Linked DNA regions of Homo sapiens. The protein of the gene in region 1 purifies or fractionates together with the protein of each later gene. This does not show direct contact. Each region holds a gene or a part of one and is shown in the gene's direction. Other genes may lie near its edges.

Region 1 (3,814 bases):
CTTCCAACTATGTGGTCAATTTTGGAATAAGTGCAGTGTGGTGCTGAAAAGAATGTATATTCTGTTGATTGTGGGTGGAGAGTTCTGTAGACGTCTATTAAGTCCGCTTGGTGAGAGTTTTTATCATAAAGGGATGTTGAATTTTATCAAATACTTTTTCAGCATCTATTGAAATGATCATATGGTTTTTGTTCTTCATTCTATTGATACAATGTATCACATTGGTTAATTTGCATATGTTGAACCATCTTGCATCCCTGGGATAAATCCCACTTGGCCATGATGAATGATCTTTCAGGTTTGTTATTGGATTCAGTTTGCTAGTATTTTGTTAAGGATTTGTGCATGTGTTCATCAGGGATATTGGCCTGGAGTTTTCTTGTTTTGATGTGTCCTTGTCTGGTTTTGGTATCAGAGTAATACTGGCCTCATATAATGATTTTGGAAGTATTCCTTCCGCCTCTGTTTTTCAGAATAGTTTGAGTAAGATTGGTATTGGTTCTTTTTTAAATGTTTGGTAAAAATCAGCAGTGAAGCCATCAAATTCCAAGCTTTTCTTTGCTGGGAGACTTTATTATGACTTTGATTTTGTTACTTATTATTCATTTGTTCAGGTTTTGGAATTTTTTCTGAAAGATAGACTGGTAGGAAAATATCCAAACTGATGTGCAGTATGATAAAAATATGGGAAGAAGTGAAAGAGACATGGGACACAATTTTTAAAAGTCTAGAAAATATGTATTTTGTGTCTCAGAAGGGAGTGAGAGAAAGAATAGGGAAAAGTAATATTTGAGATGATGGCTAATACTTATTCAAAACTAACAAAAGACATTAAACCATGGATTTGAGTAGCACTGCAAACCAAAAGCCGGGTTAATATAAAGAGAAACATACCTAGGTATATAGTAGTAAAACAACTAAAAACTAAAGATAAGGAAAAATCTTAAATATATTGAGTTATATGACTAGAAGTTCATGATGCATTCTTTATATCCTATAAATTGAATGCAATGACAAATATACTCAATAAATATAAAATGGATCTGACTTCCTCTACCTCTTTTTCTTTGCTATGTGATTATGGGGAGAAAAGTTTATAGAAGACCTTAAAATGACTCTTTTTAAATGTATTTTCCACCAGGAGCCTGTTATCATTTAAGTAACAGGAAGCGAATTTACAAGTAGCCTACTTATTTGTGCTACATAGAGTATCTTCTCATAAGTGAATTTAATATCTGTCCTTGTCCCTCCTAAACAAAGTATAACAGAGACTTGGAATGTGTAAATTTAAAATTTATGGATTTTTCCTAAATGTCTCATCTATGACATTTAAAATTTTATATTTGCTAAGGTACAAATTTGATTTGTACAATTATTCTGGTTTATATACAGAAGTCTGTCACTTTATGAGTGAGCCTAGCTAACCACAATCATCTGTTTCGTCTACTTTTATCACTAATTTGCATAGTGTCAGTTTTGTCATTTGTTCCATTAATTAATTTTAGTGAGTTTTCTTGTCCTTCACTGGTAGTATGTTGTGTTTACTAAGATGTCACAAATGTTTATAGATAAGAATAATTTTTAAATATGAACTTAGCTATTATAAAATCAAATAGTTTTTCAGGAAATGTCCAGGTATGTGAATTGTGTATTTGGAGTGATTTTAGATAAGTTAAAGGGCTTCCACATGAACAACTAATATTGTGAAATAATATTAAAGGACATGTAAAGAAAGTAACTTGATTTCTTATAGCCTATTAATTGTTCTATTACATTCCCTCTGGTACCAGTAATTAGATCCTGCCATTAACTAAGGTTAAAAGAGATTAATGCTAGAAATGTACATGATTACTTTTTTTAATCTTCTTTTTCCCCAATTAAAGTTACATGCGCTTCAGAGTAATAAACTGTGGTATTTTCCATTTAGCAGCTTTATATACATATTTAGTTGTGTATATATTCTAATATAGTTTTTAAAATAAAGAAGGGGAAGCTCTCTATATATGTATTTCATTTATTTTGCATAAAATGGCATTAGAGTTTGAAAGCACTGGATATTCCAAAACCTACCCAACAGATTTGTTTAAATAATTGAGTATATTAGATTTTTAATCTTAACAATTTATTTAATATTTCTCTAGCACACTATTTTACTAAATTGATTAGCCTATCAAATATTTAAATATAATGCATACATAATGTTAGCTTTTACTTCTCAATTATATTAATCAGAGTTTTGGATTGTTTGTTTTGTATTTGTTTGGTTGATTGGTTTTTTGTTTGTCCACAATCTTCTGAGCACCCCAAAGCAGTTTCATATTTGCCATACACTTTTATTTTGTTTTGAAAGATGTCTAATTATTTCAACTAGAAATTATTTCAGATAAAATAGTAGAAGAGGTATTATGTTGAGTAGAAACATTCTACCTATATAAGGGAGCAAAAGGTTAATTCTTAACTTTATTTATAGTTATGGGAATATGTTTTGTGCACAACTGGAAGTGTCTTTGGATTTTTCAGTATAGCCTTTAACATAATTTGAACTTGCGCTCATCAGTTTTAAGTCTTTGTAGTTTATGACCTACAACATAAATGTTAAACATTTCATCAGTGGACTATTTAACTAAATCGTAAACATGTTTGGGTATATTTTACTTTTATATAAATACGCAATTTATTAGGGTTGGATTTGATTTCTAGAAATATGAGTTCTAATCAAATGGCTTTATTCAAAAGCCTAATTTTCAAGAAAGAACATGCTATGAGTAAAAAGTAGGGTCCTGGAACTAGCCATAATGCATAATCGTACTATGAAATAATAAAGACAACTTTGGGATAAATTTAAGAAAAAACAATGTTTTATCAAAAGTAACTAATAATATTGATCTTTATATTTGAAAAAATAAAATCACCAAATGATCAAAAAAGAATTTCTGCCTTGGACAGCTGATATATACAAAAGTGTGTTTAATATGCAAAACAGAATCATAGTAATTTATCACCATTTAAGAAGTGGGGACTACTGTAGTTGATATAATATTTGTGCATACAAATTTGTGATTTTATCTTCTTAAACTGTGTCATTTTCATTACTTCCACTGAGTAGTCACCCCTTATTCAAGTTTTGCTTTCTGTGGTTTCAGTTACCCATGGTCAACCGCAGTTCAAAAACAGGCGATTGTAGAACAATAAGATATTTTAATAGAGAGCGAGACCACATTCACATAACCTTATAATAATTATAATTATAATTGCTCTATTTTATTATTATTGTTAATCTCTTACTGTGCCTAATTTATAATTTAAACTTTATCATAGATATGTGTAGGAGAATACATAGTATATATCCGGTTTGATACTATCCTCGGTTGCAGGCATCCACTGGCGATCTTAGAAGATATCCCCCCCGTCGATAAGGGGGATTACTATATAGTATCTTTATTAGCCAGAATTTCCCTAAGCTTAGGTTGTTTGAATCAGCGTGGAAGGATGTTCTTTTTCCACCCAACCCCCCCCAATCCTACCTGTTAAAAATTGATCCTCTTTAGGACTAGGAAGGATTGCTGTTTTTCAGGACCCAGATCAAATTCATTGCATCCACAAAATTTCCATTATTCTTTCTTACTCTACACTCAAGAATCTATAGCTCCTTGTATTATGGAAACCTTGGCACTATATTTTTACTTTACCTTATATTATTTCATGTATTTATCTTATTTTTTTCTCATCTCCACTGTATGTCTATTCTATAAGTTTTTAGGACAGGGATTTTTGTGCCTTGTTTACTTGTATATCATGTAACACAAGGCCATAA
Region 2 (3,138 bases), on another chromosome or scaffold:
CACTAAATATATTGATAATTTTATTATCGGTCATATAATTTACAATGTAGAAGATGTTATTCTAGACATTGGTATATACAGCAATAACTAGCATAATTCAGGAAAATTCTTGGTACTACATAGATGATACAGCATACATGCCATTGAATCATATTGGGGAAAGGCACAAAAGGACAATTGTCCTGTTTATAAGGTTGATCACTTGGATACAGTGATATCTCCTAGATATCTCCATTGTAAATATATATTTTCCCTTTTATAATTAATATGTGAGGTGATACTTTAAGATTGTATGAATACCCTTTTCATCTAGTGGCTTTAGCATCCATTGATATTTGTGCCTTTTTTTGTGATTGCAAAATAGTGATTTTCTAACTCTATCATTTCTTCTGCATTTACAAGCTAGCATTGAGCAGTTTGTTCCAGGATGAAGCAATTAAAAATACCAGTGCTTTTGTGTGTGTGTGTGTGTGTGTGTGTGTGTGTGAGAGATATATTTATGTGTGTGTATATATATGTGTTTCTAAATCATAATATAAAATACATTAACTGGAATCATAGCCAAAAAATCTCAAAAGCCACTCATGGTGTGGAGAACATAGCAGTTGATTAGCCGTGGCTTTAAAATTGAATCAGTCCTAGAAAGAGAATTCCCTTTACCTGGGATACCTTGAAAAGATTCTTGTGTGTTTGTTGTTTTGGATTTTTAAGAAATCTCATCGAGAAGCATGGTAGGAGTTTTATGTATAGTGGGTGGGTATCTATTTCAAAAAATATTTTTGCTAAGTTTATTTTTATTTTTCTGCTAACTGGAAATAAATCTTGTTTTTAATACATGTCATTACACATCTCCTGTTCCAAAAAACCTATTCATACTGTTTTTCTCTGAATAAATATTGGCAAAATTTTTATATGGTCAGGAGTGAATGACAGCATTCTTATGTGCGAGTATTGTTTCATTTTGTTTTATAATGTTGATGTTGAAATGGTTATTATAGTCAGAAAAAGAATGAAAGAAACAAAGAGAAACTGCCATCATTATCAAATGAGTCTGAGCTCCATATGCCCCTGATACAACCACCTCTCTTTAAGAGATGCACTTCCACAGAAAAGGTAGTTCCCAAACTTGGCTGATCATTGGAATCACTTGGAAACTTTGAATTAAAGATTGTTAGCCAATTAAATAGGTGTGGGACAAAGCCTAGATGTCAGAATTCTAAAAATATTACTGCTTAGGTAATTCTGATGATCAACTAAGTTTGGACACCATTGCCATAGTTTTATAAAAATGGGAAAAACTATACATACAACTATTATAAAGTAAATACATTAAACCATTATTTATGGTTAAATTGAAGGGGGTAGAGTAGCTATTGATGATTTTAATTTTATTCTTTGCATGTTTGTACTTTCCATATTTCTATAATGAATGTTTTTTAAATCAGAATAAAACAGAAAATGTTATGTTATGTTATGTTATGTTAAAATATTTATGTAAAACCCTTCTTGTCCTTTATGCTGCCTTTCCTTTGCTTTGGCTCAAGTCAAATACCACAAATGATGTTTCATATGGAGCAAATTAAATACAAATTTATATATGCAACTAAGCAATATGAAAAGCATAACCTAGTTTTCAATCCACTAATGAACAAAATCAAATTTCTAATGCTAATGTGAGCAAAACGCAACAGAACTTGAATTATAAATTGAATTACCCAAAAGGTAATGAACTGAATTACTAAATTTGCTGATCATATGGAACAAATTTAAGTGTACTGTTTATTTTAGTATTGATCAAAAACTTTATTTTTAATTCTAGAACAGTCAAAATGAGTTCTAAAAAAATAAGATATCGGTGAGCTTACTAAGGCAAGACTCTTATTCAAATAGAAGTAACTTTTCTAAAACCAACCTTAACCATTTATAAAAAATAACCATATTAAAATAATGTAACAGTATGTAGACTCAAATTTACAACAAAATCAAAAAAGAAATTGCTTCCTTCTCATACCCCAAGATGCCTTTGGTCTATATTTTTTAAATGAAGTGGTCCCAAAATGGTATGTTGTAAATAATTTTCCCTATTTTTTTTTTTTTTTACAGGGTGGCAGAAAAGGGAAAAGAAACTCTGAATCCGACCAGTGTAGGTGATTACATTAGCCTTTGAAGTCAACACAAAGTTTAAAACTTCCAGGATTTTGCAAAGTTGTATATATTTAATGCTGTGCAACTGCTAAACTATGCAGTTTTTCTTGAAGGAACTAAAAGCAACTAGCTCCCTAATGGTCTATAATTTTATTTCTTTTGGCTTAAAGTGAAAAAGAAGAAATAGAGAATTCCAGCAGAATTCAGTGGTTGTCTACTATCCATACTTCTTATCACTTTAGTTTTTCATCAGTCAATAAAATTAATTTACTCTTCCACTAATATGTTTGATTTGTTAAGTTTCAGAAACATGAAATGAAAGTATTTTTGCTTACAGCACAGCCAATCAGTTGGGTCCTTTCAGTTCAGTGAAAATTTTCTCAGCACTTTCTGCACACTAAACCCTGCAGGACATGCAAGATGAAATATGGCTGATACCCTCAAATAGCTTATGCTTGGGGGAAGTAGAAGGTGGGAGTGGTTAGGCCGGGTGTGGTGGCTAACACCTGTAACCCCAGCACTTTGGGAGGCCAAGGTGGGCAGATCACTTGAGGCCAGGAGTTTGAGAGCAGCCTGGCCAACATGGTGAAACCCCGTCTCTACTAAAAATATAAAAATTAGCTAGGCATGGTGGTGTGCGCCTGTAATCCCAGCTACTCGGGAGGCTGAGGCAGGAGAATCGCTTGAACCTCGGAGTCAGAGGTTGTAGTGAGCTGGGTGACACAGAGAGACTCTGTCTCAAAAAAAAAAAAAAAAAAAAAAAGGTGGGGGTGGGTAAAACAAGAGCAAAAAATAATTACCATAGATAGTAGAGTGTGAAATCACATTGTTTGGAGATGGAGAAAACTTGCATGAAATAGCTTTTAAAGGGTAGATATTTTTTCTGTAAATTTATTGACAGGCGGTCCAGGCAGGCAGAATGAAAAACAGTCTGTGGGCTGGGAATGGTGGCTCATGCCTGTAATCCCAGCACTTTAGGAGGCAGCGGTAGGA

Evidence for each region. Proteins that work in one complex are often made in the same cells at the same time.
Region 2: the proteins of KIF18A (region 1) and GKAP1 purify together in Homo sapiens (affinity purification with mass spectrometry; one large-scale study listed by BioGRID and IntAct). This does not show direct contact.

The regions. Positions count from the first base shown.
Region 1 is NC_000011.10:28,024,465-28,028,278, reverse strand, and holds part of KIF18A (kinesin-like protein KIF18A), read left to right. Parts: intron 1-3,814.
Region 2 is NC_000009.12:83,738,710-83,741,847, reverse strand, and holds the end of GKAP1 (G kinase-anchoring protein 1), read left to right. Parts: intron 1-2,103; coding exon 2,104-2,151; 3' UTR 2,152-2,423; downstream 2,424-3,138. UniProt on the Homo sapiens protein: Regulates insulin-dependent IRS1 tyrosine phosphorylation in adipocytes by modulating the availability of IRS1 to IR tyrosine kinase. Its association with IRS1 is required for insulin-induced translocation of SLC2A4 to the cell membrane.